Regions from separate parts of the Homo sapiens genome. Here all the other regions are linked to region 2. The links come from fine-mapping of genetic effects on gene expression. A gene starts in region 2. Each other region holds a variant in brackets. All regions are shown on one strand. Distances are from middle to middle.

Region 1 (8,174 bases), 41 kb before region 2:
AGGGGTTGTTTGTTAAGAAGCACAAAAACCGATTAAGACATGTGGTATATAGTGACTTCATATATAGAATCTGGAAAACTATCCATTTATTTTCAATCATGGAATTCAATATGACAAGCATCCCGGAGGGTCTACCTATGCCAGACTGGGTTGGAAACAGAAAGACAGATGTTAATGCCAGTGTCCTTTACACCTCCAAGTCCAGGGCCAGCTGTGGAGTGGGAGGGGTAGAGAAGGTCCTGTGCACAGTCACAGTGCGCTGTGCAGAGCAGGAACAGAGGCATCTGTGAAAAGTGCTGAGAGCCTGGAGGACAGAGTGACTAATGCAATGACAGTCTTGCATCATAGGAATAACAGCCACAGCAGGATTTTATTGCTGCCAAAGAAACTGCCATTTAAAAATTGCCAGCCATCCGGGAGGCTGAGGCAGGAGAATGGCATGAATCCAGGAGGCGGAGCTTGCAGTGAGCCGAGATCGGGCCACTGCACTCCAGCCTGGGCAACAGAGCCAGACTCCATCTCAAAAAAAAAAAAAATGCCAACCATCTCTCTTTCTAAAGTGGAATCCTCAAGTCTCGTTTATTCTGGGGACATTTGAGTAGGCTGTTCGAGTTAAGCAGGTGGAAGATGATGATCCCTCATCATCATTCTGAGGGATGAGTGTCTGAAGACTTTTTGGTAAGGAAGGGTCTTGGCATAGCCCACCCCATGCCACCTCCCTTGATCTGTGATATCCCCAGCAGCTGGGGAGGTTGGAGCATTTTGCAAAGAGGCCCCGAAGCCTCCAGAAAGTAAACCTTCAAGAGCCCATCCTTCCTTCCTCTTTTGTTTTTGCTCATTATGAAAACTTCCCTGACAAATTGAAAAGGCTTCAGGTGAGATTAGCCCACAGGAAAAACCACCAAGGGCCACCCAGAGGGGCCACACTGTGACAGAAGGAGTATGGGCTGGTGAGCTGACCTCTGGAAGACAGTGCATGAATTGAGGAGAAGAGATTGGTTCCAGGCATGGGAGGAATGAGGCTGGAAATTTCTTCAGACATTGCCACTTCGGCACTCTGTGTGTGTGTGTGTGTGTGTGTGTGTGTGTGTGTGTGTGTGTGTGTAAACAGAGTCCTGTAATGCAAGGTCCGGCCTTGGCAGCCCCAGCCTGGAGCCACAGTGAGATGTGAGCCGAGGGTTATGCTGGGAAAAACCTCTCCCTCCCAGCACCTGAAAGGCTCTGCAGGCCCAGCAGCTCAGCAAGCAAGGGTAAGGGCATGGACTAACATCTTATTTCATACTATCCCTTATAACACATCCTAATGTAATCAGCTCACAATATGAAATTATTTCATTTCTCTCCAGTCATTGTTTCAATGGGGCCTTAGGGTTGACTGGATTCTGGAGGGCCCTGCCTAGAGGAGGGGGTGCATTCTGTCCCTATGTCCCCTCCTGCTCCATCCTCCACAGCACGTGCCTAGTGGTCTACCTTGTGGGGAATTCTTGTACCTCCCTCTTCTAGGCATGGACTAGCATTGAGAAGTGGGAGAGGAGTGTTAGGAAAAAGGGCAAATATAGACATACCTTGTCTTATTGTGCTTTACAGATATTGTTTTTGTTGTTGTTGTTGTTGTTTACAAATTGAAGGTTTGTGGCAACCCTGCCTCGAGCAAGTCTATTGGTGCTGTTTTTCCAACAGCATGTGCTTGTTTTACATCTCTGTGTCACATTTTGGTAATTCTCCCAATATTTCAAACTTTGTCATTATTTCTATATCTGTTATGGTAATCTGTGATCAGTGATCTTTGATGTCACTATTGTAGTTGTTTTGGGGCACCATGAAGTGCACCCATGTAAGATGGCAAACAATCAATAAATGTTGTGTGTGTTCTGACTGCTCCATGGACTGCCTGTTCCTGAGACACAATAATGTATATATAACAATTATATATATATATATTTATAACAATTATATATATATATATATATATTTTTTTTTTGAGGCAGAGTCGCACTCTGATTGCCCAGGCTGGAGTGCAATGATGTGATTTCAGCTCACTGCAACCTCTGCCTCCCCAGGCTCAGGTGATTCTCCCACTTCAGCCTCCCAAGCTGGGACTACAGGTGTGCACCATCACACCCGGCTAATTTTTTTTTTGTATTTTTAGGAGAGACAGGGTTTTGCCATGTTGCCCAGGCTGGCCTTAAACTCCTAGACTCAAACAATCCACCTGCCTCAGCTTCCCAAAGGGCTGGGATTACAGGCATGAGCCACTGTGCCCAGCCCAAGACACAATAATATTGAAATTAAGCCAATTAATAACCCTACAATGGCCTCTAAGTGTTCAAGTGAAGGGAAAAGTCCCACGTCTCTCACTTTAAATCAAAATCTAGAAATGATTAAGCTTAGTAAGGAGGACATATTGAAAGTCAAGGCCAAAAGCTCACCTCTGCACCAGTTAGCCAAATTGCGACTTCACAGGAAAAGTTCTTGAAGGATATTTAAGCTCTACTCCAGGGAACATGCAAATGAAGAGAAAACAAAGCAGCCATATTGCTAATATGGAGAAAGTTTGAGTGGTCTGGAGAAAAGATCCAACCAGCCACAACATTTCCTTAAGTCAAAGCCTAATCCAGAGCAAGACTCTAACTCTCTTCAATGCTATGAAGGCGGAGAGAGGTGAGGAAGCTGCAGAAGAAAAGTTTGAAGCTAGCGGAGGTTGGTTTGTGAGGTTTAATGAAAGACAACATCTCCATAACATAAAAATGCAAGATGAAGCAGCAAGTGCAAAGGGAGAAGCTGTGGCAAGTTATCCAGAAAATCTAGATAAGATAATTGATGAAAGTGTCTACACGAAACAACAGATTTTCAGTGTAGACAAAACAGTCTTATGTTGGAAGAAGATGCCATCCAGGACTTTCACAGCTAGAGAGGAGATGTCAAGGCAAGCTGCAAAGCTCCACAGGACAGGCTGACTCTCTTTTTAGAGGTGAATGCAGCTGATGACTTTAAGTTGAAGTAAATGTTCATTTACTATTTTGTAAATCCTGGTGTCATTAAGAATTATGCGAAATCTACTCTATCTGTGCTCCATAAATGGAACAATAAAGCCTGGATGACAACACATCTGTTTACAGCATGGTTTACTGAATATTTCAAGCCCACTATTGAGAACTATTGCTCAGAAAAAAAGATTCCTTTCAAAATATTACTGCTCTGCACCATGTCGATCAAGAGCTGTGTTGGAGATGTACGAGAATATTCATGTTGTTTTCATCCCTGCTAACACAAACATCCATTCTGCAGTCCATGGACCAAGACTTTCAAGTCTTATTAAGAAATATATTTCATAAGGCTATTAAGAAATAGCTATATATATATATATAGCCTTATATAGTTTATATAGCTACCATTGATAGTGATTCCATTGATGGATCTGAGCAAAGCAAATTGAAAAGCTTCTGGAAAGTAGTCATTATTCTAGATGCCATTAGGAACATTTGTAATTCATGGGAGGAGGTCAAAATACCAACATTAACAGGAGTGTGAAAGACATTGATTCCAACCCCCATAGATGACTTTCAGGGGTTCACGTCTTCAGTGGAGGAAGTCGCTGTAGATGTGGTGGAAACAGCAAGAGAACTAGAACTAGAAGTGGAGCCTGAAGTTGTGACTGAATTGCCGCACTCTCATGATCAAACTTGAACAGATGAAGAGTTGCTTCTTACATATGAGCAGTGAAAGTGGTCTCTTGAGATGGAATCTCCTCCTGGTGAAGATGCTGTGAACACGGTTAAAATGACAACAATCGATTTAGAATAT[T/C]ACATAAATTTAGTTAATAAAGCAGTGGCAGGGTTTGAGAGGATTGACTCCAATTTTGAAAGAAGTGGGTAAAATGCTATCAAATAGCATCACATGGTATGGAGAAATCTTTTGTGAAGGGAAGAGTCGACCAAGGTGGCAAATTGCATTGTCATCTTATTTTAAGAAATTGCCACAGCCACCCCCAGCTTTAGCAACCACCACCCTGATCAGTAAGCAGCCATCAACATCAAAACAAGACCGCCATCCTCTTCAGCAAAAACACTATGACTTGCTGAAGGCTCAGATGATGGTTAGCATTTTTAGCAATACAATATTTTTAATTAAGGTATGCACATTGGTTTTTCTGACATAATACTATTGCATACTTAATAGACTACAGTATAGGATAAACACAACTTTTATATGCACTGGGAAACCAAAAAGGTTATTTTTGAGATATTTGCTTTACTGTGGTGGTCTGAAGCTGAACTCACAATCTCACCAAGGTGTGCCTGAACCTCTTTAGCTAACTGGCCACTGCCACAGTCCACTCTGTGTTGGTCAAGATGCCCCAGAGTGGCAGGCACACTGTGTGGTCACATCCAAGGGCCTAGATATGGTGGGGGCTCCAAATGGATCTAGATATGTGAGATCTCTCTTTGATTTGACTTCTTCCAACCCACCATTTTCTGGGTGCTGGGCTCATCTCACCCAGAAAGTAGGACCCAATGTGACAGTTCCTGCCCAGTTCCCTCCTGTGGTAGCCACTTGACCCAGGGGCACTCTTGATCCTTGCAGCCTCACTTACACACCCTATCTCTACCCCTATTAACTCTCTCCAATCCCCACTCCCCCTGCTCAGCTTGTCTGCTGCCCAGTGGGGGCCCCACCCATGCTGGCCTCTCCTTTTGCAAGTCCCCATTCCTCATATGGTTTCTTCAGAGCCCCTTTCTTTGGCTTTGAGGAGAGATGCCCTCACTCGCTTCCCCACCAATCCTGCCCACTTCTACAATCCATTCATTATCCTAATTGCCTCCGTATACAGACTGGAGTGAGAGGAGTTGATGTGATGGGTGTGGATACAGGGCTGGTGCTGTCATCTTCTAGTAAGCCCTGGGAGAGGTGTCTGAGCCCAGGTGTCAGTGGTTTTCTTTGGAACTGTGAGTGCATAACACTTCTTTGCCTTCAGCCTTAGGCCATAGTTGCTAGTTCTGGGACAACCAGAAAAGCCCTACATAATCTCGTGTTATGTGCAGAGCTGAGTATAGAGCTCCAGGTATGATCTGACTCACTTAAGATCACAGTGAGTCTATTGTATTGTTGAACTGTTAGCTTAGACATCTGTTACTGTACCTACATGGCACTAGCCTCACGCCTAGACACCGATCTGAAAGAAATCCCCTAAATGCATAGAGAAGACTTCTCAGCTGAGCTAAGGGGCTCCCACCAGGTTTGAGCCTATCTAATGAATCCATGAGGTAGACAGCCTGCACATGTCCACTTGGTTTGATGAATTGCACAAATCCCTATGGGGGATGTGGTTCATGGGCTGGGAAGTGGGTTACCCTGGGAAAGGTCTACAGGACAGAGGCAGGGATGGAGACAACAGCATGGTGAGTTCCCAACCCACCCACGATGATAGGTGTCTGAGGCAGAAGGTAAAGAGGCTGTCACCTGGTGGGTGTCATAAGACTCAAGTGTCATTGTTGAGGCACATGGGTAACAAAGCGTGGCACTGGATGGGGGTAGATTCTTCCTATTTCTGTGAGGATCAGGGGGACTCCCTGGCTCTCCTGCTAAAGGTGGCTCTAGGGACAGGAAGAGTGTACTTCTTGACAGGGATGTCAGAGCACTGATGGTGACAATCAGTGTGACACTGCTCACATGACTGAACAACCGAGAAGAGCCCGACTGTCTACTGAACAACGGGAAGAGCCCGACTGTCAATGACGGAGCTCTGTTAAATATAGTTAAGGCTATTTTGTTGAATGAATGAAGCCAGACAGGAAAGAGGACAGTATCTTTAATCCATTTATAGAAGTTAAAGACAGGCTTATTTAATCTCTATGAAGACAGAGTGGCCCTTACCTCTGGGTGGAGCAAAAGGCACCTTCTGAAGTGATAGGGATGTTCCTTATCATCTTGATCCGGAGTGGTAGTTACATGCATGTGTGCATATCAAAACTCACCAAGCTGTACCACTAAGTGTGTTCTTCCTCAATAAAAATAATAAAGAACTACACTTATAAAGAATTTTTTAATAATATAGGAAAATGTCTACACTATAATCTTTAGCTAAAAAAAAAAAAAAAAGAAGCCGCCTACAGAATGGTATATGCATGAGAACAATTAATCGAAAAGTGCATGGGAAAAGTCAGGATTGAAACATCATGTTTTAAAAGACATTGTTTTGATACTGTGAGAATGTACCTAAGTTTTTCCTTTTTTCTGTTTTTCCCAATTTTATACAATGAGCATGTGTTGGTTTTATAATTAGACATTTTGTTTGTTTGGTTTGGTTTTGAGACACAGCTTGCTGTCACCCAGGTTGGAGTGCAATGGCCCAATCTTGGTTCACTGCAACCTCCATCTCCTGGGTTCAAGAGATTCTCCCACTTCAGCCTCCTGAGTAGCTGGGACTATAGGGGCGCACCACCACATCCAGCTAATTTTGTGTATTTTTAGTAGAGATGGGGTTTCACCATGCTGGCCAGGTTGGTCTCAAACTCCTGACCTCAAGTTATCCACTCGCCTTGGCTTCCCAAAGTGCTGGGATTATAGGCATGAGCCACCGCACTTGGCCTAGACATTTGTTTTTAAAAATAAAAGATTCATTTGCTCTTTTTACAGCCCGTCTCACTGTTGACTGATATTGACCAGGAGTCAACTCAGGCCCCAGGGATTTTCACAACAGCTGCTGTATGGCAGGGTTTCTGCTCACTGTGCTCATGTAGTTGGCCCTTGCACCCAAAGTGAATAATTAACATTCTCCCCATCCTGTTGACGATGCTCTGAAAATATGGTCCAGAAATGGTGTGAGCAAGGAGACAGCAAAGCAATGCTTGGAACATAGGTGCAGTGACTAGACATGGGGCAGCTGTTTAAAGACAAAAAGGCCCCAAAAAGGAGGGATGGCACGAAACACCCTCCAATATGGGCATGGAGTCTAGAGTGACAAAGTGATCAAAAGTTCATTTCCTATGGGGTGTCCGAATGTACTTAATAATAAAAAGAGAACAAGAGCCATGCAAACTGAGAGGGACAAAGTAGAAAGAGTAGCAGACACCAAGCAACTAAGTCACAGCATGATAAGCTGCTAGCTTGTTGTCATTATTGTATCCAGAACAACATTTCATTTAAATGCTGAAGAATTTCCCATGGGTCCCCACTTTCTTGTGAATCCTTGGGCTGAACCCCCCTGTCCTGAGTGGTTACTAGAACACACCTCTGGACCAGAAACACAAAAGTGGAGTAACGCACACTGCAAAGCTGTGCTTCCTTGTTTCAGCCTGTGAATCCTCACCTTGTTTCCCATCTAGCCTATATTTTTCAAACTAACTTGGCCATAGAATCATGTAGTATTTAGGGTGGAAGCTGCCCCAGGTCTAGCACGTCATTTAACAGATGAGGAAATGGAAGCTTGGGCAGTGGAAGTATCTTGCCGAGGTCACACAGCAAGTCAGCAGCACAGCGTGTGTGACTCCGAGCCTGCTCCGCTAGCCCACATTGCCCTCTGGGGGTGAGTATGTCTTCACATCCTCCAATACCCTAATGACAGACAAACAGAACATGGCAAAGCCTCAGCTCTGCATGGTGAAAGTAAGAACCAGCAATTGCCACAAACAGAAATACAGTGTTGGTCCGGCAGCCTCCGGGGGTTCTGCACAAGTGGATTACCAGTGAATACAAGGCTATCTATCTTTCGAAAAACCAAAGTTGTATTTATGCTATCTATTTTCTATAAAATTTTATATTAATTTATTTGTTACCTATTTTTGAACTCTTTCAAAAGCACACTTTATATTTCCCTGCTTAAACAGTCCCCCGAGGGTGGGTGCCCAAAAGGCTCTACACTTGTTATCATTCCCTCTCCACCACAGGCATATTGAGTAAGTTTGTATTTGGGTTTTTTTAAAACCTCCACTCTACAGTTAAGAAAACTAAGGCACAGAGCTTCAATAATTTGGTCAGAGCCAAGTAGCAGTAATGAAGCTGGAGGTTAAACCCAGCAGCATGACTGCAGTTCTTAATCAATGCCTTTTGAATTGCACATATGGGATGAACTAGAACATTTTCTCGATGATTCGCTGTCCTTGTTATGATTATGTTACTGAGCTCTGTTGTAGCACAGACATATGTCCCTATATGGGGCGGGGGTGGGGGTGTCT
Region 2 (8,185 bases):
GAAAGACTGCTTTAGGGAATAGTCAACACTATTTCACTCCCAGTAAGTACATATAAAATCTGTATTTCCAGGGTGGATTATCAACACAGCTGTATTTTAGAAATATTATCTGCCCTCCCAGGTATCACAGCTACTAATTATTGGGTACTGAGGTGGAATTTTAGGGATCAGCCAATTATGGGAAAGAAAATCTGGGGGCAGGATAAGATGGTCTCCGAAGCCTTAAAATTATATGCCATTATTTACCTCTTTGATCTACTACTCAATATCAAACAACTAATTCAGAAGAAAATTGATTGTTTTCTAAAAGTAGTTTTTCTACATTTCCCATTAAGAAGCAGTGGTATTTAAAACTTATAATGGCTATTATGTGAGATTATCACTATCATAGTTTTTCTCTATACAAATTTTCTGTAACATTTTATTTGCTAATAAAAATTAGATAGATGGATTGACTAATTGATAATCTAAGAAAGATTATATTTGAAGAAGCCATAGTAAGGGACAGATTAAATTATCATCAGTCTAAACATTCTAATACCTATTTCTCTTTTTTTGAAATTTTCCAAATTTGTTATTATGCATTTAAACAATAATTTTTTGAACTTTTATTTTAGGTTCTGGGGTACATGTGAAAGCTTGTTACGTAGGTAACCTTTTGTCATGAGGGTTTGTTGTACAAATTATTTCATCACTCAGCTATCAAGCCCAGTACTCAATAGGTATCTTTTCTGCTCCTCTCCCTCCTCCCGCCCTCCAGTCTCAAGTAGACCCCGGTGTCTGTTGTTCCCTTCTTTGAGTTCATGTGTTCTCATCATTTAGCTCCCACTTATAAGTGAGAATACAAGGTATTTGGTTTTCTGTTCCTGTGTTAGTTTGCTAAGGGTAATAGCCTCCAGCTCCATTCGTGTTTCCACAAAAAAACATGATCTCGTTCTTTTCATGGCTGCATAGTATTCCATGGTGTATATGTACCACACTTTCTTTATCTAATCTGTCATTGATGGGCATTTAGGTTTATTCCATGTCTTTGCTACTGTGAATAGTGCTGCAATGAACATTCACATGCGTGTGTCTTCATGGTAGAATGATTTATATTCCTCTGGGTGTATACCCAGTAATGGGATTTCTGTTTTTAGCTCTTTGATCTAATACCTATTTCTCAAGATCAAGTTAGATCTCTAAAAAAGGCATCATCCTAGCATTTCCCCATCCCTTCCCTGAACTAAATTTAATGTTGTGTGTATCAATCAGCATACAGTCAAGACAGAAACCACACATGAACATTAAATATAATGAGTTATTAACTTATAAAAGGGTATGAACTACTAAAGGGGGTAAGGAGAATGCTGAAGAATGCAGGAATGGCAGATGTAGAGAGCAGCCATAACCTCTAAGCTAAGGCACAGCAGCCAAGGAAGGGGCGAACTCAAAAAATGCCCTCCCTCCCCAGCTGATCCACCCTTGTTGGAGGGGGTGTGGCTGCAACCCAATGGATGCCCAAGAAGTTTGCAGAGTTGTGGCAGGTTGGGGCTGCTGAGCAGGAAACTGCCCGAAGGGGTACCAGTGAGATTCCCAAGAATGTGGGCATGCCTCTGGCGAGGAAGACGCTCTTGGAGTGCCAGCAAAATTTACTAGGAAGCTACCCAGTAGGGTGCCAGCAAAAGTCAGCAGGAAGCCACTGTCGTGGTGTCGGCAAAATTCACTGAGGAGTGGGCACTGCAGGGTCTCCACCCAGCACTGGCAAATCAGCCAAAAGAACAAAAACAAAATAAAAACAAATCCCAGAACCAGAAAGAAAAAACTCTGCCTCTTACTGCGACCCTCTTATGCCTTCTACAGCAACTGGCAAAGGAGAAATGTTTATGGGGTCCAGCTCTAGACTCACAAAGCAGAACACAGAAGAGTGAATGAAGAGCTGAAAGGCGATAAATCAGTAACTGGAGCCTCACATCCTTTGCCTTTTTTATTGAGGGTCAATATATTAAGAAGAATATGTCTGCGTCTTCGGTAAAATTATTGCTAAGGTTATCACCCAGTGTGTGTTTTCAACCTCCCTGATATAAGAACTTAGTGACAAGAAAGAATGAGACAATGATCATGAACTATTGGACCCAACCATTTGTGGCTTTAGTGCCCATCTTCTCAGCAAGGCTTTCTCTCTCTCTCTCTCTCTCTCTCTCTCTCTTTTTTTTTTTTTTTTTTTTTTTTTAAGATGGAGTCTCACTCTGTCACCCAGGCCGGAGTGCAGTGGCACAATCTTGGCTCACGGCAACCTCCACCTCCTGGGTTCGAGTGATTCTCCTGCTTCAGCCTCCCGAGTAGCTGGGATTACGGGCACCCATCGCCACCCCTCCTGGCTAATTTTTGTATTTTTAGTAGAGATGAAGTTTTGCCATGTCGGCCAGGCTGTTCTCAAACTCCTGACCTCAAGTGATCCACCCACCTCAGCCTCCCAAAGTGCTGGGATTACAGGCATGAGCCACCACAGCCAGCTCTCAGCAAGGCTTTTTCTGACTACACTATTTAAAATGTGATCCCTGAGCCACCTTGGCCTCTCTTGCTGTCCTTCCCTGCTTCGCCTTCTCCATAGCACTTCTCTCCTACTAATCTACAATTTACTTGAGCTCTGTGAAGGTCAGGATTTTTGCCTATTTTGTCCATTGGTGCATCCCCAGCACCTGGAACAGAGCTAGGCACAGGCTAGGCACTCTAGAAATACTTGCTGAATAATTGAATTAAGTAAATGAGTGATCTACACGTAGTGGGGAATGAGAGTATACAGTGATAGTTCCTTCGACTAAAACTGGGGTCAAATTATAGTGATAAAGAGGAACTCAGACCTTCAGAGGTAAGCTTTGTGGACCACTTGCCAAGGCTGCAGAATGTGATGTCGTTTCACAAACAAGGAGGCCCTATTATGGCTTCAGATATGAGAATAATAAAGAGAACTTTCCTTTCGCCTCAACTGCAGCCTTCTAAACTCTTCCTTCCTTCCTATGTAGAAGTTTCAAGGACCTCATGGCCTGAGTGTGGATAGGCAGAATGCTGGGAATCAGGCAAAAATAAAATAATACTGAAAGTGAAGGTCATGCTAATATTAGTAAGCCAGGGTGATCCTGAATTTACAAAACATTTTTCTTTGGGAAATTTCACACCTCACATGATTCTGTGTTTTTACTTGGGAAATTTCACATCTCACATGACTCTGTGACATGCGGTACATGAGGTGCCTGACTGCTGTTTTTGTCCTCTACTAATGAGGAAGAGTGTGCGTACTCCCAGCGTTTTGCAAGTTTCAAAGTCTGACTTGACTTTCCTTCCTTTTCCTGGAACTGATCCATGAGTATCGAGAGTAAAGCTGCCCGCACCTACTCATTCAAGATCCTGAGTGTCCTGCCCAGCTGCAGGAGGTGGAGAGACCCAGGAGGAGGGGCCACTGCTGATCCCAGGCTGTAGGGGGTGGGAAGAGTGTCCCAGGGCACCATGACCCCCACTCACTCACTCACAGGAGACCCACACAAGAGAGGAGAGGGCACTTACAGCTTAGGTTCCCACCAGCACCAACTCCTCTGCCATCAAACATCATTGTGTTTCTCTTTCTGCCTTGTCTGTCGGCACACGTGGAGTTAAATTTAATGCTCAATCACATATTTGTCTGGGCTCTTTCTGTGTTTATTTTTCTCTTAATAGTTCTCTCTCCTCCCTTCCTCTCCCCGCCCCTCCTCCTCCTTCTTCTTTTTTTTTTCCAGAGACAGTGTCTCGCTCTGCCACCCAGGCCAGAGTGCAGAGTGGCATGATCATGGCTCACCGCAGCCTCCAACTCCTGGGCTCACGTGAACATCCCACCTTGGCCTCTGGAATGTCTGGGATTACAGGCACTTGCCACTGCATCTGGCTAATTTTTATATTGTTTATAGATCCGGGATCTCACTATGTTGCCCAGGCTGGCCTCAAACTCCTGGGCTCAAGCGACCCTCCCACCTCATACTTCTGAGTAGCTGGGGCTGTAGGAATGCGCCTCAGTGCCAGGCTAGTTTCTTAATTTTCTATTTCTATTTTGACAGGTACAAATTTTGTATTCAATCCTACCTCAGACACATCTTTGGTGGGAAAAGGATGTCATTTAATCAATATATAAATTCTAAGCAAATAGGTCTGATCCCCAAATTAGGTTAGTCACAGCTGCTGAGTCGTTGACCCAAGAGAAGCTCATCTAGATTTTTTCATTATTTTCAAGTTCCTCTTCTCGGTTCGTCCTTCTTCCAGACCGTGCCCTCCCCGTCCCACTCTCTTCCCACAGCCTCCCCTCCCCACAGCCTCCTCCCACCATTCCAAATCTGGGCTGTTCTCTCAATTTCCTTCTCTCTGGACTCAAACCTACCCTAGCCCCCAGCCTCAGTTTGGGGTTAAACTTGTCCTCCTCACATTCTCTCCCACCCAACTTGATGTCGCCTCTGTGTCATCACCACGGGATTTTCCTCCTCTGGGTTCTCCTTTTCCGAGTGGGGTCAGCTCCCCCATGAGTCACAGCACCAATCACTTCTGGCTGCTTGCAAACCCCTTTGCTTTCCTCAGTGTTGACACCCAGGGCAGCCCTATGCTCACTGCCGCTGAGACCCCACCTCTGCCCCTGGCCTTTTCCCAGCTGACATCACCCTGTGGCTTCCATTTTCCTAAAATTCTCTTTTGAGGCCTCAGTCTTAACCAAAGCACACAGTGCCCCTCAAAAATGACAATAAAAACCCAAACACACCGTGACTGTCATGGCAGGTTCCTGGTCCCCGTATTGAATCAGCGGGTGGGTTTCTGCGAACACTGGTGAGAGGCCGCATTAGAGGGTCAGGACCCTCAGGTCTGGACTCGTGGTCACCACATACCTTCCTCCCTGCTGACAGTAGCTGGTACCTGTTACCTACTCAGAGTGTCACATGCCACAAGCCAGAGCGTCTTGGCAGTTCTCAGCACCTTGACATCACTTCCTTGCTACCACTCAGAGCGGCAGTGACACAGTTCCCTTATCTCAGAAGGCCAGAAGACGGCTGTCAAAGGTCACAGGGAAATCAAAGGCGGGGTACAGGGCCAGAGGGAGGAGGAAACAACTTCCCGGTTGCTTTCAGACGCTTCAGAGATCCTCTGGAGGCCTGGGGGAGCTTTTGAGTACTTTATTTCAGTTGGTCCCTGAGCTCGGTGAGTGGGGCGGGTAGAGCCACCAGGGGAATCAACAGTGGTTTCTCGTGCCCCTCAGGGTCAGGAGCAGTCTGATCAAAAGGAGGGCATCCACTGTCCGGGGCCATTCCCACAGCTCCCGGATGCTGGGTCTGGAGGCTGCGCCCTTCCCCTGCAGGAGCTCAGCCCAGTGGTAAGTCATCTGTGTGTCATCTATGTATTTAACCCCTTATGGCCATGTTGATGCTGAGCATGGTTTCACTTTTGCAAACATTTATTTATACCCTTCGAGAGAAAAACGTCTCAGCTGTCACAGGAAGCTGCTTCGGGGGGTGAGCAAACTTTTTAAAATGCAGAAATTATGATCTACACCCGTTTCTTAAAAGTAAGCCATCGTACTTGGTTCTCTTTAATTATATATTTTCTTACATATTGTGTTCATGTAGGCAAGTCCTGTTTCTGCTAAAAGAAGGTAAGTTCTACCAAGGCGGTGTCATGCCAGCTTTATTTCCCGTGGCACCTGGCACACTGCTAAGCACTTACATGCTTAACAACTAGATTGGGAATGGTGCTGCTCTGGGGAAGTGGGCACACGTTAAAGAAATGTTTATTTCAGTCTTCTGAAATAGGGAATTACTCTGGCTAAAATGTAGCTCCAGAAAGGGAAAGTGGGGCTGTATGAATCCAGGTCCAGTTTGTTGTTTCCTCCAGGATAAGGCAGCTGTCGGAGGGGAAAATCATCTCCCATTTCTCCACAGGGCAGTCTGAAGATGGCCAATTACACGCTGGCACCAGAGGATGAATATGATGTCCTCATAGAAGGTGAACTGGAGAGCGATGAGGCAGAGCAATGTGACAAGTATGACGCCCAGGCACTCTCAGCCCAGCTGGTGCCATCACTCTGCTCTGCTGTGTTTGTGATCGGTGTCCTGGACAATCTCCTGGTTGTGCTTATCCTGGTAAAATATAAAGGACTCAAACGCGTGGAAAATATCTATCTTCTAAACTTGGCAGTTTCTAACTTGTGTTTCTTGCTTACCCTGCCCTTCTGGGCTCATGCTGGGGGCGATCCCATGTGTAAAATTCTCATTGGACTGTACTTCGTGGGCCTGTACAGTGAGACATTTTTCAATTGCCTTCTGACTGTGCAAAGGTACCTAGTGTTTTTGCACAAGGGAAACTTTTTCTCAGCCAGGAGGAGGGTGCCCTGTGGCATCATTACAAGTGTCCTGGCATGGGTAACAGCCATTCTGGCCACTTTGCCTGAATTCGTGGTTTATAAACCTCAGATGGAAGACCAGAAATACAAGTGTGCATTTAGCAGAACTCCCTTCCTGCCAGCTGATGAGACATTCTGGAAGCATTTTCTGACTTTAAAAATGAACATTTCGGTTCTTGTCCTCCCCCTATTTATTTTTACATTTCTCTATGTGCAAATGAGAAAAACACTAAGGTTCAGGGAGCAGAGGTATAGCCTTTTCAAGCTTGTTTTTGCCATAATGGTAGTCTTCCTTCTGATGTGGGCGCCCTACAATATTGCATTTTTCCTGTCCACTTTCAAAGAACACTTCTCCCTGAGTGACTGCAAGAGCAGCTACAATCTGGACAAAAGTGTTCACATCACTAAACTCATCGCCACCACCCACTGCTGCATCAACCCTCTCCTGTATGCGTTTCTTGATGGGACATTTAGCAAATACCTCTGCCGCTGTTTCCATCTGCGTAGTAACACCCCACTTCAACCCAGGGGGCAGTCTGCACAAGGCACATCGAGGGAAGAACCTGACCATTCCACCGAAGTGTAAACTAGCATCCACCAAATGCAAGAAGAATAAACATGGATTTTCATCTTTCTGCATTATTTCATGTAAATTTTCTACACATTTGTATACAAAATCGGATACAGGAAGAAAAGGGAGAGGTGAGCTAACATTTGCTAAGCACTGAATTTGTCTCAGGCACCGTGCAAGGCTCTTTACAAACGTGAGCTCCTTCGCCTCCTACCACTTGTCCATAGTGTGGATAGGACTAGTCTCATTTCTCTGAGAAGAAAACTAAGGCGCGGAAATTTGTCTAAGATCACATAACTAGGAAGTGGCAGAACTGATTCTCCAGCCCTGGTAGCATTTGCTCAGAGCCTACGCTTGGTCCAGAACATCAAACTCCAAACCCTGGGGACAAACGACATGAAATAAATGTATTTTAAAACATCTATTTAATGTATTTTAAAATAATTTGTAAGTTGATTTTAAAACCAATTTAACTACATTCCAAATTATAGACAGCCCATTTATATGGGAGTAACTTTTCAGGCTCATTGCCTCGCCGGTGATGAGAAGAACTAGCTAGCTGGAAGCTGTGGGAAAAAGAGGTAAGGTAACTTGTTCTGTCGAAGTTCTCTAAATTCTCTTGCTTACTTGCCACACCCCTAGGCCCCCAGCTTCCCCTAACCCAAGGTTTCTGGTATTTTCTCGTACTTTATCAAGACTATGGAATCTTAGGAGACTTAACAAAAGCAAATGAGAAATTATGTTTAGAAATGTCTAACAAAATGAATGCTTTGTCCTTTTAAGTATAACACATACCTCAGGCCTCACCAGCACATAACTACAAAAGGTTGTCCCACTTCCTTTCTGTGGCTGAGTTAGTAGAACACAGGCTCCCACCTGCCACATCAGCAGAAGGTCACCTCAACATGTGAGCTACCTCCCCGGAGACCCCCCAGATCCGTAAGGATGATGCATCCTTGATCCTAAAAACATTTTCCTGTTCCTGGTGTTCAGAATTGGACTCCACACTCACTGGTCTCTTTATAATCTTGCTTCTGGCCCTTTGAGGCCTCAAAGCTACCAGGGCCTTGCTGCCAGGGGACAATCACCACTCCCGGCTGAGTCCTGCAGACATAGGGCCTGGGCTGGCTGCCTCCTCCTGCTGGCCCAGCATCTTGCTTGCACTAAAGAGAGCTGGAGGCTTGGCACTGATGCTTGCTAAAAACCTACCCAGGCCGCCCACTGCT
Region 3 (8,185 bases), 180 kb before region 2:
GATCTTTGACAAAGCAAACAAAAACATAAAGTGGGGAAAGGACACCCTTTCCAACGAATGGTACTGGGATAATTGTCAAACCACATGTAGAAGAATGAAACTGAATCCTCATCTCTCACCTTAGACAAAAATCATCTCAAGATGGATAAAAGACTTAAATCTAAGACCTGAAACCATGAAAAGTCTAGAAGATAACATCAGAAGAACTCTCCTAGACATTGGCCTAAGCAAAGAGTTCATGTCCAAGAACCCAAAAGCAAATGCAACAAAAACAAAGATAAATAGATGGGACTGAATTAAACTAAAAAGCTTCTGCATAGCAAAAGTAATAATCAGCAGAGTAAACAGACAACCCACAGAGTGGGAGAAAATCTTTGCAAACTGTGCATCTGACAAAATGGTGAATATCCAGAATTTACAAGGAACTTAAATCAGCAAGAAAAGAACAAATAATCCCATCAAAAAGCGGGCTAAGGACATGAGTAGACAATTCTGAAAAGAAGATACACAAGTGGACAACAAACATATGAAAAAATGCCCAACATCACTAATTATCAGGGAAATGCAAATCAAAACCACAATGCAATATCATCTTACTCCTGCAAGAATGGCCATAATTAAAAAATCAAAAAATAATAGATAATAATAATAGATGTTGGCAGGGATGTGGTGAAAAGAGAATATTTTTACACTGCTGCTGGGCATGTAAACTAGTACAACCACTATAGAAAACAGTATGGAGATTCCTTAAAGAACCAAAAGTAGAACTACCATTTGATTCAGCAATCCCACTACTGGGTATCTACCCAGAGGAAAAGAAGTCGTTACAATGAAAAAGGCACCTGCACATGCATCTTTACAGCAGCGCAATTCACAATTGCAAAAATATGGAACCAAAGTAAATGTCCGTCAACTAACGAGTGGATAAAGAAAATGTGATATACATATACCATGGAATTCTACTCAGCCACAAAAAGGAACAAAATAATGTCATTCCCAGCAACCTGGATGGAGTTGGAGACCATTATTCCAAGTGAAGTAACTCAGGAGTGGAAAACCAAACATCCTATGGTCTCACCTATAAGTGGAAGCTATGCTGTGAGGATATAAAGGCATCAGAATGACATAATGGACTCTGGAGACTTAGACGGAAGGGTGGGAAAGAGACAAGGGATTAAAGACTACACGCTGGGTGCAGTGTACACTGCTTAGGTGATGGGGGTACCAAAATCTCAGAAATCACACCTAAGGAACTTATCCATGTAACCAAACACCACGTGTTCCCCAAAAACTATTGAAATAATAAAATAAAATGATGCACATGAAGAATTTAGCAAATAATGTAAACTCAACAAACTCTGTTATTATGGTTACCTAAACTCTGTTAGACCCACCTTCGCCTTAGTGATATTAAGTTCACAACTTGAACTTGGCCACGGAGAGTATTTACACCAAGGAAACTGGAAATTGATGCTATTATATCAGGCATGTTGTGCCTGTTTTGATTCTTCCTCCAGAAAGCTGGTTGTTAACATTTACCAGCACACCATTGCAGAGTACCTATAGGCCATGAATGTACAGGGAAGATGTTTGCATTTCTTTCATCTTAAGTCTTCAAGGACAAATGGATCTGACAACAGCAACAAATACTGTATCTGAGTTTATATAAATCTTTGGTTTCAGCAGAAATAGCTTTTACTTGAATATCTGCTCTTCCCACTAGCAGCTGGGGCCTGATTCCCTAGTTGTAGGGGTATTCCTGCACATGCAAGATGCACCCCTCACATGCCCCCCGCAGCCCAATCCTTCACAAAGAGAGGTCCTGACCTTGGCTGGGCTATGTTTCAAGTCACACAAACAGTTCAAACCACACGGCTCTGCCTGCAGTTGAGGCATCTTGAACCCAATTTGCACTTCCCTTTTCTAGACTTTTAGTCTTATTCCTGTCTTCCTTTTCCCTCTGTGGGTTATTCTGCGGGGTGGGCTATTTTGTTTTGCTTAAGCCTTCATTTTTGAGCTTGCTTTCCTCCAAGAACCCCTGGCAGGTTTCCGGTTGTTGAAATGCACATTCACTTCTTCCAAAGGATCATCCTGTGTTCTTTTGCCCCTTGCAAAGCAGACCTACCCAAGACCACTGAAGACAAAGAAGGGGGTCCATGAAGGAGTGTGTCTGGGCCCCTGACTGGCCGCCACCCCTCACTTAGCTCTGCCTGCCTTTCCTCTTCCCGTGTGCCCCCTAGTCCCTCCCCAGCCCCTCTCTTGCCACTGCTGTCCACACAATTTCCCACAGGCTTCCTCCACACAAACTGGCACTGAAGATTCCCCCTGAGGACTGGGCAGGAGCCCTGAAGGTCAGATAGGCAGGCCTCCCAGGCTGTCCCACTCTCTAGGACAATAAGGCGTGACACTCTCCACATCAAAGGACCCATGTCTGAATTCCTGTTTCAGAGCAGTGAGACAGAGGAAGCAGGACCATGTATCATGCCACACCACCAATCCATATCAACACAGCAGCCACAGAGTATGGCACACCTAGGGCATTCCTGGATGGCCATGGTGGAGGTGGGGAGATGGGGGTTTCATGGGGATAGATGAACTTCTAGCTAGACTGGGCAAGTGATGGGTCCAGTATGATAATCTGGAGAAGTTACAGGGGCTGACAGGCAGCCTGGTTGCGTTACTTTCTCTTATTTAATTTGTCGCCCTCTTGCTGCTGCCTTGCCTCTGAAGCTACCTATCAGGAAGCCCTAGGATTCTTCTTGAAGGGTACTGCCAGGCTAGTAGAGAACTCAGGAGAAAAACCTCCAGAGTCCCTTAATCTTTCAGGGCCCCACCCCACAGATCTAGTGCCCTAGGTCCTGGGCTCTAACTTCAGACATCATGCATGGCCAGGCATGCTGCGCTCCTCACCTTGTTCAAGCAACAGACAATGGCAGCACCTTGCCACAGGCAGCAAGTCCTCCAGCACACCAGACCTGGCACAGCCCTCAGATGCCAGCCATGCCACCTTGGGCATTTTTATTTACCGCTTGTCAGAACCTCAGCTTCCCCACGTTTAAAATAGTGAGAGTAATATTTCTTTCTCAGGATTGTTGCAATAATTAAATATGATTCAATATGTGTCTGGCACTTGGTAAATGTTCAGCCGATGGGAGCTACGTGGCTATTTATTTCCTCATCCTATGCCTCAGTCAAACTGGTAAACATCTGTTGAATGTCTCCTATGTGCAAGAAAATTGTCAAGAAACCCTTCATGCTAAAAAGGGGAAGGAGAAAGTATATTAAGGAAGTGCTCTAAAAACTCCCTGTCCAGGTCCAGCCCAAGTTAACACTTACAGTCTTGCATGCCAAGTTTTAAAACTCTTTTGAGGCCAGGTGTGTTGGCTCACGCCTGTAATCCTAACACTTTGGGAGGCTGAGGTGG[G/T]TGGATCATGAGGTCAGGAGTTCGAGACCAGCCTGGCCAATGTGGTGAAACCCTGTCTCTACTAAAAATACAAAAATTAGCTGGGTGTGGTGGTGGACATCTGTAATCCCAGCAGAGGGAGGAGAACTGCTTGAGCCCAGGATGTGGAGGTTGCAGTGAGCCGAGATCGTGCCACTGCACTCCAGCCTGGGTGACAGAGCAAGACTCTGTCTTGAAAACAAACAAACAAACAAATAAAATCTCTTTTGAGTCTGGGCTTACATACAGTCTAATACACAGCATTTTATATCATGTTATCTGTATTACATCTTTTCTCTCCAGCTAAATTGTAAGCTTCTCAGCTGCTGGGCCCATGCCCAATCCTTTTTCATATGTTTTCCACAGTACCCAGCACTGAGATGCATATATATAAGAGGTGGTCAGTGTAAGGACTTGCTGATTAAAGTTGATGCTTGTGTGTGTGCATGCATGTTGTGTACATGCATGCAGGTGTGTGTGTGCATGTATGTATGTGTGACTATTGATAAGTACAGTTTGACCTCTTTTATTCAGAGTGACATTATCACGTGTCACTTGTATCAATCTGTTTTCCCTTTCAGCCTGCCTCAGTTTCAGGAAGCAAGAATTCTTTTGGCTCCTGACAAAGAAGGGAGAGAGACATTTTAGATCCCATGGCTTGCCTGAAACTTGGCCACGGACAGGGTGCTGGTGCAGGTATGGGACATGGATAGAGGTACTAGAGGACAGTGGATGACTTGAGCAGGTTCAGAAACATAAGCCCAGAGGTGTCGGTAAATAGAGTCTCCATCGGGTGTGATCAGGGTGTGCCAGGAGCTGGGTAGAAAGCAGCATGAGTGCCCACAGCCAGAAACAGCTCAGGGAGAGCTCTTTCAAATAAAGGGATGCATATACAAAATCGATTAAATACTCCTGCCAGTTAATAAGAAAAGGACCAATGGCCTCTTGTTTTTTAAATAGGCAAAAGACTTGATTAGAAACTTCATAGATGAGGATATCCAAATAACTAACATGTATGTGAAAATGTGCTCTGCATCACTAATCATTTGAGAAATGCAAATTAAAACCACTGGTTTTAATGAGACGAACCAATGAGACAGCAGCACATAACCACCAGAATGGCTAAAATGAAAAAAACGCAAAACAACATCAACAAAAAACCAAACCCTGGGCCAGGCACGGTGGCTCACACCTGTAATCCCAGCACTTTGGGAGGCTGAGGCAGGCAGATTACCTGAGGCCAGGAGTTCAGGACCAGCCTGGCTAACACCAACATGGTGAAACCCCATCTCTAATAAAAATACAAAAATTAGCTGGGCACGGTGGCTCACACCTGTAATCCCAGCACTTTGGGAGGCTGAGGCGGGCAGATTACCTGAGGTGAGGAGTTTGAGATATCCTGGCCAACATGGTGAAACCCTGTCTCTACTAAAAATACAAAAATTAGCCAGGCATCGTGGCACACACCTGTAATCCCAGCTACTTGGGAGACTGAGGCAGCAGAATTGCTTGAGCCTGGGAGACGGAGGTTGCAGTGAGCCGAGATCATGCCACTGCACTCCAGCCTGGGCAACAGAGCAAGACTCTGTCAAAAAAAAAAAAAAAAAAAAAGCCATCAACAACAAAAAACAAACCCTGACAATAGACAATACCAAGTATTAAAAAGGTTATGAGGCAATGAGAACTCTCACACCATGCTGGTGCAAGTATAAATTGGTACAACCACTTGAAAAATTGTTTAGCAGTATGTAAAGCTAAACATGTGCTTTCCCTGTGACCCAGCAATTCTACTTCCAGGTAAATACCCAAGAGAAGTGCACATAAACCCAAAAGATGTGTTCAAGAATGTTGTTAGTAACTTTATTCATAATAGTCTCAAACTGATAGTCCAAAATTCTTATCAGTAGTAAAACAGATAAATTAGTCATATGAGAGAATACTATATATAGTAATATAAAAGACCAAACTATTGCTACTGCATGCTACATAACCTCATTTATAATGAATTCAATAATGGTCAAAACTGATCAGCAGTGATAGAAATAAAATAGACATGACCTCTATGGAGGTGGGTACTGACTGGGAAGAAGTGCTAGGGAACATTCTGGGGTTCTAGTAATGTCTTGACTGGTGGTTACATGGGTATGTGCACATGCAAAAACTTAAGATTTAGGCATTAACTCATTAGGCATCTTACCATCTCAATCTTTAAATCTTTGAACATTTTTTAGGTAAATTGTCCATGGCATGGTGGCACCTGCCTGTAATCCCAGCTACTCGGGATTACCCAGCTACAATTGCTGGGTTGTATTGTAAGCACGAATTTAGTTTTGTAAGAAAGTGCCATGCTCTTTTTCATAATGGCTGTATTATTTTATGTTCCCAGCTGCAAAGTATGAGTGATTCATTTTCTCTGCATCCTTGCCAGTGTTTGTTTTACTATTCTTTATTTCAGCCATTCTGATAGGTATGTAGTAACATCTCATGGTAGTTTTAATTTGCATTTCCCTAAAGACTAATGATATTGAACATCTCTGTATGTGCTTAGTGGTTATCTGTATATCCTCTTCAGTGATATGTCTGTGCATATCTTTGACCATTTTCTAATTGGAATTTTTGCTTTTTTGCTTTTGAGTTTTGAGAATGCTTTATATTCTAAACAAATATTTTGTTAGATATGTTGTTTGCATTTTTGAGTTACTTCTTGTATAAGGTGTGAGGTTTAGGCTGAGGGTCATTTTGTTTTTTGGTTTATCTACGAATGTACAATTCCTCAAGCACCATTTTTTGAAAAGACTATCCCTCCATTTAATGGCTTTACACCTTTGTCAAAAAACAGTTAAGCATATTTGTGAGTCTAGTTCTGAGTTCTCTATTTGTTCTTTGATCAGTATGTCTATCTCTCTGCCAATATCACTCTATCTGGATTACTGTAGCTATATAATACGTCATGAAATCAGGTAAGTGATTCCTCTCACTTTATTATTGTTTTTCAAAATTATTTTAGCTATTCTAGGTCCTGTGACTTTCCATATAAACTTAAGAATAATAAGCTTACAAATGGCTATAAAAATTTCACTGGAATTTCTATAATATAAATTTCCCTAAACCTTGGATTAATTTGGGGAAAATTGACATCTTTACTGTTGAGTCTTCTAATCTATGAACATGGTATATCTCTCTATATTTATTTAGGTCTTCTTTGATTTATTTTATCAGCATTTTGTAGTTTTCAGCATGCAAGTCATGTACATACTTAGCTAGAGTTATACCTAAGTATCATCTAAAAGCTTTTTGGAGCAACTGAAAATGGCACAAAAATTGTTAATTTTGGCTTCCACATGTTCCTTAGTACATATAAATGTGATTGACTTTTGTTTCCTGGTTTTGTTCCTGCAATCTTACTGACCTTGGGATTTTCTATGTAGACCGCTATGTCTTTCCTAAATAATAGGGACAGTTTTATTTCCTCCTTTCCAATCTGTATGCCTTTTATTTATTTTTCTTGTCTTACTGCACTGGCTTAAACTTCCAGTTGAATAGGAGTGGTGAGAGTAGACGTCCTTGCTTTGTTCTTGATCTTAGAGGAAAACATTCATTCTTTCTCCATCAAGTATAATGTTTTCTCTAGACTCTTTGTAAATGCTGTTTATCAAGTTGAGGAAGTGTCTTTCTATTTTTAGTTTGCTGAGTGTTTACCATGAATAGGTGAAATATATATATATATATATTTTCTTTTTTAATTGAGATGGAGTCTTGCTCTTTTGCCCAGGCTGGAGTGCAGTGGCATGATCTCGGCTCACTGCAACCTCTGCTGCCCAGGTTCAAGCGATTCTCATGCCTCAGCCTCCTGAGTAGCTGGGACTATGGGTGCATGCCACCATGCCTGGCTATTTTTTTATTTTTCGTATTTTTAGTAGAGACAGGGTTTTGCCATGTTGACCAGGCTGTTCTCAAACTCCTGACCTCAGGTAATCCCAGCCCCTGCCTCAGCCTCTCAAAGTGCTGGGATTACAGACCTGAGCCACCACGCCCAGCTGAAACATTTTGTTAAATCACTCTGTCATAGATATTTTATCTATGTCAATATTCAACAAACTAGTTTTTCTGAATTGTTGAATTTATGATAATAAAGTAGTTCATAGTATTCTATTATTATTCCTTTTAATGGCTGAAGAAGCTGTAGTAATATCCCGTTTTATTTCTGATATTGGTGATTTATGTCTTCTCTTTTTCTCTTGTATGTCTTGCTAGAGGTTTATCACTTTTCTTGATTTTTTTGAAAAACTGGCTTTTTGTTTCCTTGCCTTTTTTTCTCTTGCATCCCTTGTGATGGAAGTTTCTTTGATTTTTATCTACTGTTTTTCTGTTTTCAATTTTATTTATATTTTCTCTTTATTTTTGTCTCCTTTCTACTTGTTTTGAGTTAATTTTGCTCTGCATTTTCTGGTTTCTTGAGGAAAGAACTTGGATTATTGATGCGAGACTGTTCTTTTCTAATGGAAGAATTTAGCGCTGCATATTTTCCTCTCAGAACTGCTTTAGCTACAGCCCACATACCTTGATATATTATTATTTTGTTTTCATTTAGTTCTGTATATTTTTAAATTTCCTTTGAGACTTCCTCTTTGACCCATAAATTAGTTAGAAGTGTTTTTACATTTTCAAGTGTTTAGAGATTTTCCTGTTATCTTTCTGTTATTAAACTTTAGTTGATTCCACTTTGGCTTGAGAACATACTTG

Evidence for each region.
Region 1: its variant is fine-mapped to the expression of CCR5AS in whole blood (INTERVAL, PIP above 0.99).
Region 3: its variant is fine-mapped to the expression of CCR5AS in whole blood (INTERVAL, PIP above 0.99).

The regions. Positions count from the first base shown.
Region 1 is chr3:46,361,283-46,369,456 of GRCh38, forward strand. CCR5AS (CCR5 antisense RNA) reads right to left here. Exons shown (of 4, transcript NR_125406.2): 4 at 2,702-3,763. Among named protein-coding and RNA genes, the nearest start is that of CCR5, 5.6 kb to the right of the region's middle. The variant T/C (reference allele first, on the strand shown) is at 3,805.
Region 2 is chr3:46,402,141-46,410,325 of GRCh38, forward strand. CCR5AS (CCR5 antisense RNA) reads right to left here and starts at 4,926. Exons shown (of 4, transcript NR_125406.2): 1 at 4,757-4,926. CCRL2 (C-C motif chemokine receptor like 2) reads left to right here and starts at 5,119. Exons shown (of 2, transcript NM_003965.5): 1 at 5,119-5,362; 2 at 5,928-7,383. The coding sequence starts at 5,940. The coding sequence ends at 6,974.
Region 3 is chr3:46,219,703-46,227,887 of GRCh38, forward strand. It overlaps a transcript of CCR3 not described here. Among named protein-coding and RNA genes, the nearest start is that of CCR1, 15 kb to the left of the region's middle. RefSeq lists an enhancer at 1,966-2,135. The variant G/T (reference allele first, on the strand shown) is at 3,425.